Homo sapiens: one gene and its partners. The protein of the gene in region 3 interacts with the protein of the main gene of each other region in a biochemical or structural test. Each region holds a gene or a part of one and is shown on either strand. Other genes may lie near its edges. The genes, in order: FAM20C, FHL1 and CDC25C.

Region 1 (3,651 bases), on a different chromosome or scaffold from region 3:
CAGTGCAATCTCACCCAGCAGCCACCCATTCTCTCTATGCACACTGGAAGATATCCATAGGGCCCCCCCATTCCCCAGTACAATCCCACCCAGCAGCTACCCGTCCTCTCTATGCACACGGGAAGATGTCCACAAGCCCCATTCCCCAGTGCAATCTCACCCAGCAGCCACCCATTCTCTCTATGCACATGGGAAGATATCCATAGCGCCCCCCCATTCCCCAGTACAATCCCACCCAGCAGTCACCCGTCCTCTCTATGCACACAGGAAGATGTCCACGGGCCCCATTCCCCAGTGCAATCTCACCCAGCAGTCACCCATTCTCTCTATGCACACTGGAAGATATCCATAGGGCCCCCCCATTCCCCAGTACAATCCCACCCAGCAGCCACCTGTCCTCTCTATGCACACGGGAAGATGTCCACAAGCCCCATTCCCCAGTGCAATCTCGCCCAGTGGCCACCCGTCCTCTCTATGCACATGGGAAGATGTCCACTGCCTTTCAAATAGGTTCTCCCCATCTGGAACGCTCTCCCCTTCCTGCCACCTGCCCTGAGCACCTCCCACCACTTAACCCACCAACTTTAGACCAAAGGTGACAGTCTGCTTCTTCCCCGGCCTCGCTGAAGAATCCTATCGCCCGGATATCCGTCAGTATACAGGACTCATTCCTATTGATTCATCATTATTAATCTACGTCACTAGTTAACATGGCTAGTTAATGTGATTAACGTGCACTAGTTACACAAGTTAACATGCACGAACAGAGTGCCCTGTGCCTTCATTATTTCATGTTGCTGTCAGCACTAAGAGTTCGGGGCCACACAGACCCTCGGACGCCACTGGGTTTTGCCCACAGTCTCTCCCCGGGTCACAGCACGAGACAGAGGCGATGTTCGTATGCAGTTGCCTCCTCAGAAGGACTCCAAGAGATGCTGGCATTTCTTATGAAATAAGCGTCTTACATAGAAAGATGGCTGCTGTCACAGAAATACTAATGGACTTTGGTGCCAGGCCCCAATCGGTGTGGCCTTAGGCAAGCCACATAACCCCAGACAGCTCCGGCAACCCACTGGGAAGCTCTAGAAGGAAGAACCCAGAGCAGGTCTGGAGAGACAGGGAGAGACGGCCCTGAAAGAGAGAGGTGTGTGGCCCGGGCCTGGGGGTCCCAACACCCCGCAGGGTGCTCATGGGGATGGAGACTGGGTGCAGCCACCACTCATCCTTGGTTTCTCGTGGGAGCAGGAACCCTTTCTAACAACAACCCCAACCTGACTTTAAATTAACCAGTTCCACCTCCTACAGACCTGTGGACCACAGAAACACATCCAGGTGTGAGATGCTGCCGTCAGCGTGGGCCCCCATGTTGCCGCCTTTGGCCCTGGTCATCTCGTCCGTCAAGAGGGCCAGCGTCTGTCCTTGGGGGTCACGGTCAGGCGGTCCCCCTGCTCTTCACAGCCACTGTCTGGCCTCAAGGGTCAGTTATTCCTGAAGACGAATGGGGACAGCTGTGTGTGCTGGAAGTAGGGCCTCACCCAAAGAGGGCTCAGATGTGGAGAATGTGACACCGGGAGAGCTCAGGTCACCCTGTTCTTCCCACCGCACACATCTCCAAGCCAGAGAGGTCTGCTCGGTGTCCCAGACCCCGGGTGCCCACACCCAGGCTCATATACCCATTCACCCTGGGCACCGAGGGACCTGGTTTTGAGGAAAAGGACATAGTTGGCCAGCAGTGGGCACCCTGGGGCTGGCATCAAGGAGGCTAGAACTGTGGGAACCTACTGCGAGGTAAGGGGCTGGAAGAGCTGGGAGCCTGCACCTGCTCTGGACCTGGATCTGCCAGTCCTCGACTCTCCTGGAGGCCTCAAGTGACAGGCAAGGCCCCATCAGCACTGCCCAAAGTCCCGTCCATCACACACCACCCTCAGGACACTTTCGCCAGAACCGCCTCCACCCCAGACTGTTATTTATTCCACGATTTTCTTCAAGGCCCCTTTTATTTTGAAAGATCTGTTTTTTAAAAGAAAACTGCAGCCTTGCCCCAGTGGGGACCATGTCTGCATCAGAAGGAAAGTCGGCAGGTGCGCATCGGGGCACACTCCTGCAGCTAGGGGGCTGCTGTCTCTGCTCAGCACGGGGAGGCCGGTGCCTGGGTGGCCCCAGGCCTCAGCAGCATGAGCTTTTGCTCCTCACCTTCCACCAGACGGCTGGGAAGGGAGTTGAGTGCGGACTGAGCTATTTGCCGCCTCCTCCAGGCTCCACTTGAAATCGTCCTTTGCAGGTGGTCATTGTCCTTCTTTCAGGATAACCCAAGGTCCCCCAGCCCTGGGGCCATGGGCGTCCAGCTAATTGGGCATCTTCCCTTTTCTCTCTCTAGGCCGGCCGAGCGAGGCCCTGGGACCGTGACCTGCAGGGGCAGTTGCCACCTGGGGTGGGTGGGAGGGGGAACAGTGGCCTTTCTGGAGCTGGCGCTGCCTTCCAAGGAGCCCTGCTCCCAAGGAACAGACACGGTGGCTGTGCCCTCCCAGGTACCTGCAGGCAGCTCCCTCTCGTGGGCTGACCCAGCGGAAGCCCTTTGTTCCTTGAAGCTCACCCGCTGGTTAGTCCTGGATTCTAGCTGGACTCATTCTTCCCCTTTTGGCAGATCAATCAGTGTCAAGAACTTTGGTCCTGCAGAGTCATTTTTCTTTGTTCAGGCATGTTCTCCCAACCACAGTCTTTGTCCCAATCTGGATGGAGCAATTATGAAGTCTGTATTTCAGTCCAGAAGCTGCCCGAATCCTCACATGCCAGTGGGATGTCATTCATTCTTTGCATCCATAATTGTGCATGATAGAAATTTAATTATCGCCAGCCCCAGCCCAAGGCACTGCATGCCCGATTTCAAGCTGAATAGAGGTAGATAATATCCCAAGACTCTTTAAAGGTGGCAATGGCCGGTTACCAGGCAGCCAGGAGCCCAGCTATAAATAAACCTCCGCTGGCCCTAACCAGCTGTGCTGTAGACCACGTGGCGCTCCATGAATTGGATTGGGTGGTTCTGAGCAGGAGAGATTTAATGGAACCGTTCCGAGGGAAGGCTTTGGAGACTCGCAGGCATCGTTCTCCATTACAACAATATTTCTGGGCTCACGTTTAATAGTAAGATGAATGACTTGAGATTAAAGTGAGCACCCAGGGGCCGGACAGCTGAGGGGACAGAACTCAGAGCCTGGAGCACGCAGGTGCTAATCTCGGACAAGCCTCCTGCCCTAAGAGCCTTGGTTTCCCTCGCTGTGGAGCGGTGGTTGGAAGGCAGGGCTGGCCTTTGAAGGCTACCCCTGTTCTTGGTTGCAGGACCTGTCTAGGGGCACCAGGCTCTAAACCTGCCTGATTGGCTTGGCCACGCCAAGGGCCTAGCCAGAGGCTGCTATCTCAAGCAGCTGGGTCTTCACCCAGATCCTCCAACTGGAAGTTCGTACTCAGAAGGGCCCTCGGAACAGCCGTGGCTGAGTCAGGCCAGCCAGGCAGCAGCAAGCGGGGTCAGCAAGCAGGTCAGCCCCCTTCTAGGACAGATCACATCCTCCTGGCCTAGGCCAGCCCTCTTGTGCCGTTCCCTGCAGACCAGGAGACCTGGACCTGGACATGGAGCAGCTCCCATGGCACACTTGG
Region 2 (3,651 bases), on a different chromosome or scaffold from region 3:
CTTTGATATTACCAGTGCAAAGTTCTTCATTGTTTAGTCTCATAGTTCTAGAACATGACTTGCTCAGAGTTCTAAGCATCCAGATGATAAAATAATCCACAGCTCACCAGTGAAGATAGAAGTAACAAAGGGTGTTGAAAATGTCAGACAATGAAGTCACTGGCCACTGTATCATTCCTATAGTACATGGTCTTAAACCAAGCAAAAGGAAAATTAAATGAATCAACCCCAAGTTAATAGTACCCATAAGAAGAGTTTCATCTCTTGGTATTTTTGAATCCTAGCTTTAGGCAAGATTTTTTCACTCTGAGTTTGAAAACTCTAGGGTCACCTTACACCTTAGATTCCCCACCACTCTATACTTAAACCTGCAGTCTGTATCCAGATGGAGAATCATTTCAAAGGGCATATTCTTTTAGAATACATTTCTACAATTCACTTGAGTCCTTTTAATGTGTGTGGAAACAATTAGTCTAGATAAAATAGGCACTTCTAGGAATGTTGGATTTGTTGCATAATAAGTAAACAGGCTAGAAATACTTAAAGTATGTTAACAATGTCTATGTCAAATTCATGAACTTTCGTATTTGTTTTGCAATAAATCAAATTAAGTGGAACTCTGGGCAACCTGAATTAGCTTACGTCACGTACTTCTAAATTTATGATTATTTGTTACAAAACAATTTCAAACCCTCATGCACGCAGTGTGCTCAGGATGAAGTTGGAGGAGATACTGATCACGTCACAATTTTGTATAAAATATGAATGATGTGCTGATGTGCACAAGACCAAAACAACTCTAAAAAGCCAGCTTATAAATGACAATGCTGAGACACACATGCAAAGATCCTGAGTGTGGGCTCCCTGAGTCTGAGCTACTATCAAGCTTTGACTTCATGAGGAGAGAAAAGCTTGCTCTTTCTTTCTTTCTTTTTTATTTTAGACGGAGTCTCGCTCTGTCACCAGGCTGGAGTGCAGTGGCGCAATCTTGGATCACTGTAACCTCTGCCTCCTGGGTTCAAGTGATTCTCCTGCCTCAGCCTCCCGAGTAGCTGGAACTACAGGCATGTGACACCACACCCAGCTAATTTTTGTATTTTTAGTAGAGACAGGGTTTCACCATGTTGGCCAGGATGGTCTCGATCTCCTGACCTCATGATCCACCTGCCTTGGCCTCCCAAAGTGCATTTTACAGGCGTGAGCCACCGCACCTGAGATTACAGGGGTTACAGGCATGAGCCACCGCGTCCATCCCAGCTTGCACTTTCTTTTGTTTGAAATGAGAGAATAGGGAAAAATGAAGATAGCATTTTACCTCTTTGTTGTTGTTGAGACAGGGTCTCGCTCTGTCACCCAGGCTGAAGTGCAGTGGTGCTATCCTGGCTCACTGCAACCTCCACCTCCTGGGTTCAAGCAATTCTCCTACCTTAGCCTCCTGAGTAGCTAGGACTATAGGTGAATGCCACCACGCCTGGCTAATTTTTGTATTTTTAGTAGAGACGGGGTTTCGCCATGTCGGGCAGGCTGGTCTTGAACTCCTGACCTCAAGTGATCTGCCCACCTCGGCCTCCCAACTTGATGGGATTGCAGGCATGAGCCACCATGCCCAGCCAGCATTTTACCTCTTCTTTTGGGCTCTCTTCAACCTTACAGAATTACATGTACTTAGGCATTTATTTCTTAGGGAATAATTTTTTATCCCCTTAGCTATTTCTAAGTACATGAAATGTGAAGGCCTTTAATCTTCCAGAACTTCTAGATATGTCTGCCTTGACCTATTGCTGTTATCCGGGAATGGGAGTGTCAGCCATCATTGAAGGAAACAATTGCTACACATCATCACCATGCTTCTTCCCTTACCACTTGTCTTTGTGGAGGGCATGTTTGCCCTCGGGCAGCTCTTTGACTAATTTTAATGTCTCGGTGTAGCCCTCATCTGTACATAGTAGGGATGCCAGAGTAGGTATTAGACATGAGCAGGGCAAGAGAGGGCCCCCCACCCAACCAGGAATGTCAGGCGGCCATCAGGTGAAGGTCAGATGGTTGTTAAACTATCTCTCGCTAAAATAATAATTGGTTGCAGCTGGCACCAAGGAAACACGGTCCCTAATAGACAGAAACACCTGAAACTGATGCTCAGCCACGTCCCCATGAGATCTCAGGAGGTGGGTAATTGGGCTCAAGCATGTGCACTAAGAGGCAAAATTGCGGTGTTTAACTGGTATAAGACCTACCTCTGGGAATGCTCTACTGCTAAGGGAAAAATCGCTTAAAGTAAGCATGCACACAACTTCAGTAAACACCACGCATGCGGCACTTCCCAAGTGCTGGCAGGCCACTGGGCATGCGGACAGCCCACCCCAAGGGAAGAATCAGGAGAGAAGTAATATAACACCCGAATCATGCCAACATATAAAAGCCCAGGTCAAAGGTCAAACCATGCACTTTTTGAATCTCTCAAGTAGCCTGCTTGGTCATCTTCTAAATGTACTTTACTTTCATTCCTGCTCTGAAACTTTATTTTATTTTTTGAGACGGAGTCTCACTTTGTCACCCAGGCTGCAGTGCAATGGTGCAATCTCTGTTCACTGTAACTTCCGCCTCCCAGGTTCAAGCAATTCTCCTGCCTCAGCCTCCCAAGTAGCTGGGATTACATGCGTGCACCACCAAGCCTGGCTAATTTTTGTATTTTTAGTAGAGACAGAGTTTCAGCATGTTGACCAGGCTGGTCTCCAACTCCTGACCTCAAGTAATCCACCCGCCTCAGCCTCCCAAAGTGCTGGCATTACAGGCATGAGCCACCGTGCCCGGCCTCCTGCTCTAAAAGTTTTTAATAAACTTTCACTCCTGCTCTAAAAGTTGCCTTGGCTTCTCCCTCTGCCTTGTTCTTCCTTGAGGAGGCAAGAAATGAGGTTGCTACAGACCCACAGATTCCCCGCTGCTAACATACTTTGGTGCCGAGTGACTTGGATACATTCCCTAGTGCTAACAAGTGGGGTTTCTCTATGACAGAAAGTTCTGCTCATACACTAGGGGGCCCCAGTACCTAATCCAGGGCTTTGTATACAGGAATCACTCAGTATATGCCTGTTGATTGACAGATGGAGATATGTTACCACAACTAAGTTTCTAAAACTTTGGTATGTGGATAGTCACTGAAAGTGGCTTCTGATCCAATTATCTGAGCCTCTATTTTGTCCATACCAACCCTATTTCAGGACCACACTGATTTCCTTTCTGTAAGGACTTCTTTCTTGGGCCTATTCTCCTCTGCTTTCATGGACTTATGAACCTAATGCAATATGACATACTATTTCCTGATTTTAAAAATCATCTTATATGACGTGTAAGGTGCTGAAGTCTAACCTACACCTTAGGTCCACATAAATGTCCCCTGATTTTCTAAGACAGAAAGCATCATTATTAAATAATTTAATTAAAAATTAACTAAATTAAAGTTTTACAAGCTTAGAATACAGTTAGAAATGTGGCTGGGTGATAAAATTTTAGACATTTATTCCAAAAGGGTAGCCTGACTTTCTATGCCTGCTTCAAAAGACACATCATTTTCACTTAATAAACAAGCTTCCTTTTTCAGAAAATTCTTGAACTACATCCAACATGCTGAGAGGTGCCTAAATAAACCTCAGT
Region 3 (3,651 bases):
AGGGATTAGATACAGAACTATCTTAGTGATGAGGTGGCTCCGGAGAGGCTAGATTTAACTTGGAACGACGGATGGCCTAAGGTTTAGATAAAAAGTACCATGGCCTCCTCGGAATAAGGGCTTAAAAGCTAGACTAAGGGGGAAATAAGAAATTAATCTACACTTGCATGTAAAGTGGTAAAAAAAAATCCATGAACAAGTTATGCAAGTTATCCCTACCTGTTAAAACAAACAAACAAACAAACAAAAAACTCCTAAATCCCTTACACTACAGTAAGGGTAATTTTTGTCCTCAAAATGATCAACTGAACATGAGAAATAATGATGACCTACTGTGGAAGATTTGGAGCTGGGTGTCTGTCCTAGGGCCAAACTTTAATAAGAAAAAACAAAAACAAAGAAATTTTCTCCCCTATAGTAATACAGTTTCCTTGTCTAGCATACGAGGTATAAACAGTTCTATGTCTCATTATGATACCAAGTTTCTTCACTCAAAAAATAAAACTGCCAATATATCTAGGTTTCCATTAAACACTCACATTTTCTTTATTTGCAGATGAACTACACATTGCATCTCTCTTTCTATGGCCACGGTCCAAACCATTCGGAGTGCTACAAAGAAGCTGTGCCTAAAAAAGAGAGTTTGCTGAGAACGTCCAGCATCCTCAAGCCACAGGTGCAATGGAAACCCTCTGCCTCCCACCTGAAAAGCAAAACAAAACCCAAAAAAAGAGAGGCTACTCACTGGGCTACATTTCATTAGGTGCTGGTCATGATTCCTGCAGATTAAAACAAACTGCCTGTCAGGTTAGTCCCAAATACTGTTTGATTATTCTTCAGTGGATTGGTGCATCCCAACATTTTTCTATTTCATTCTAGGAGCCCTATTCCTAGTTGATATGTCTCTTCCAACAACAATACATAGGGTATTCTCTGTGGTAAATATCAAGACTCAAGTGACATCCTGGGGATAAGACCCTCATTTTGCCTGCATAACCATATAACATGTTCCAAAGATGAACGAGTTTTATACAATTTACAATTTACTAATTTTCCAGCACAGTGTATTGGGGCTAATTTTTTTTTTTTGAGACGGAATCTGGCTCTGTCACTCAGGCTGGAGTGGCACGACCTCGGCTCACAGCAAGCTCTGCCTCCCGGTTTCACGCCATTCTCCTGCCTCAGCCTCCTGAGTAGCTGGGACTACAGGCGCCTGCAACCACATTCAGCTAATTTTTTGTATTTTTAGTAGAGATGGGGTTTCACCGTGTTAGCCAGGACGGTCTTGATCTCCTGACCTCGTGATCCGCCCGCCTCAGCCTCCCAAACTTCTGGGATTACAGATGTGAGCCACCGCACCCGGCCGGGGCTAACTTTTTAAAAAAATTTAATTTCTGGCGGGGCGCTGTGGCCCACGCCTGTAATCCCAGCACTTTGGGAGTTCGAGGCAGGCGGATCACCTGAGGTTGGGAGTTCGCAACCAGCCTGACCAACACAGAGAAACCCGTCTCTACTAAAAATACAAAATTAGCCAGGCATGGTGGCGCATGCCTGTAATCCCAGCTACTTGGGAGCCTGAGGCAGGAGAATCGCTTGAACCCGGGAGGGAGAGGTTGTGGTGAGCCGAGATCGCGCCATTGCACTTAAGCCTAGGCAACAAGAGCAAAACTCCGTCTCAAAAAAAAAAAAAAAAAAAAAAGGCTGGGCGCGGGGGCTCACGCTTGTAATTCCAGCACTTTGGGAGGCCAAGGCGGGCGGATCACGAGGTCAAGAGATAGAGACCGTCCTGGCCAACATGGTGAAACCCTGTCTCTACTAAAAATACAAAAATTAGCTGGGCGTCGTGGCATGTGCCTGTAGTCCCAGCCTCTCAGGAGTCCGAGGCAGGAGAATCACTTGAACCCGGGAGGCGGAGGTTGTAGTGAGCCAAAATCGCACCACTGCACTCCATCCTGGCAACAGAGCGAGACTCCATCTCAAAAAAAAAAAAAAATTAATTTCTATCCTCCCTCCATGGATTTCATTATCTATCTGGGTTAGAGCATTTAAAGCAATTCAAGCTGGGCCCAGTGACTCACATCTGTAATCCCAGGACTTTGGGAGGCCAAGGGGTGGGTGGGGGTGGGGCGCTGATCACTTGAGGTCAGGAGTTCAAGACCAGCCTGGCCAACATGGTGAAGCCTCCATTTTTGTATTACTAAAATACAAAAATTAGCCGGGCGTGGTGGTGGACGCCTGTAATCCCAGCTACTCGGGAGGCTGAGGCAGGAGAATCGCTTGAACCCAGGGAGGCAGAGGTTGCAGTAAGTCAAGATGGCACCACTGCACTCCATCCTTGGCAACAGAGCCAGACTCCATCTCAAAAATAAAAATAAATACATAAGTAAAATGCTTGGTATGTGCTAGATACACAGTTTATTTACTCCTTACAATAGCTACTTTATGAGAAATGCTATTATTGTCTCCACGTTACAAATAAAAAAAATTAAGGTCCAATGAAGTTAAAAAAAACTTGTCAGAGTCACAACTGGTGAATGAAGTAGTAAGCCAGGAATCCACACACTGATTCCAGAGCTTATACTCTGTACTTTCTTTTTTTTTTTTTTTCTGAGACGGAGTCTCGCTCTGTCGCCCAGGCTGGAGGGCAGTGGCGCAGTCTTGGCTCACTGCAACCTCCGCCTCCTGGGCTCAAGTAATTCTCCTACCTCAACCTCCGAAGTAGCTGCGATTACAGGCATGTGCCACCACATCCAGCTAATTTTTGTATTTTTAGTAGAGACGGGGTTTCACCATGTTGGGCAGGCTGGTCTTGAACTGCTGACCTCAACTGATCCGCCTGCCTTGGCCTCCCAAAGTGCTGGGATTACAGATGTAAGCCACCGTGTCCGGCCACTCTGTACTTTCAATTACTAAGATACAGCACCTTTCACATACAAATAAAAGCCTATACATAAGTGTAGTATACCATTTTCCTTCATTTCCTTATAGATACTTCTGATTATGATGGTTAAAATGAATAGCCTTCATTTTCACAACACTATTTAGATGTGGAAAACTTAGAAACTGTTCAAGGTAAGGAACTAGGCCTCAAAGCCCACTTATACCCAGTATGAAAGGTTTTGTACTCTGCAGAGTCTGCACAGGATAAAATCTCTATGACCAGTGCTAAAAGGCTTTTGTGTGGGGTTCATTTAACAACAGAACTTACATCCCAGCTAAATGCACTTCCTGAAGTCCTGAAGAATCCAGGTGACCTGCAATCAAATATAAAGAATCAGTAAAAGGAGTTATTCTTGTCCATGCATCCTGTTTTTCCTTCAGATTTTCTTCATTACCAGTAAGCCGTATTAATTTCAAGGACTGAGCTTTTGAATACAAAGCCTCTCGATTGGTACCCATTTCATGGTACAAGGTACAATTTCACAGAAACGTAAGAATTTATATGTGTCACTAAAAGAAATCAAGTGTTGGGAAACACTACACTATGCTACCTATGGAGTTTTTTTTTTTCTTATGGGTAGAAAAGAAAGGTTATCACTCAGAAAATCTGAAATTAGAATTCTGGAAGGTTAACTTATGAAACATTCCTTTTGGAATATTTCATATAAAACATATAAAAATTAGTTGACAACATATTTCTTTTTTTTTGAG

The links.
Region 1: of the proteins of CDC25C (region 3) and FAM20C, one has a biochemical effect on the other in vitro, tested with the Homo sapiens proteins (one large-scale study listed by IntAct).
Region 2: the proteins of CDC25C (region 3) and FHL1 form a complex in vitro, tested with the Homo sapiens proteins (one study listed by BioGRID).

Annotation. Positions count from the first base shown.
Region 1 is NC_000007.14:199,011-202,661, reverse strand, and holds part of FAM20C (extracellular serine/threonine protein kinase FAM20C precursor), read right to left. Parts: exon of another isoform or gene 1,979-3,651; intron 1-1,978. UniProt on the Homo sapiens protein: Golgi serine/threonine protein kinase that phosphorylates secretory pathway proteins within Ser-x-Glu/pSer motifs and plays a key role in biomineralization of bones and teeth.
Region 2 is NC_000023.11:136,200,044-136,203,694, reverse strand, and holds part of FHL1 (four and a half LIM domains protein 1), read right to left. Parts: intron 1-3,651.
Region 3 is NC_000005.10:138,325,276-138,328,926, forward strand, and holds part of CDC25C (M-phase inducer phosphatase 3), read right to left. Parts: intron 3,255-3,651; coding exon 3,209-3,254; intron 780-3,208; coding exon 746-779; intron 630-745; coding exon 540-629; intron 1-539. UniProt on the Homo sapiens protein: Functions as a dosage-dependent inducer in mitotic control. Tyrosine protein phosphatase required for progression of the cell cycle. When phosphorylated, highly effective in activating G2 cells into prophase.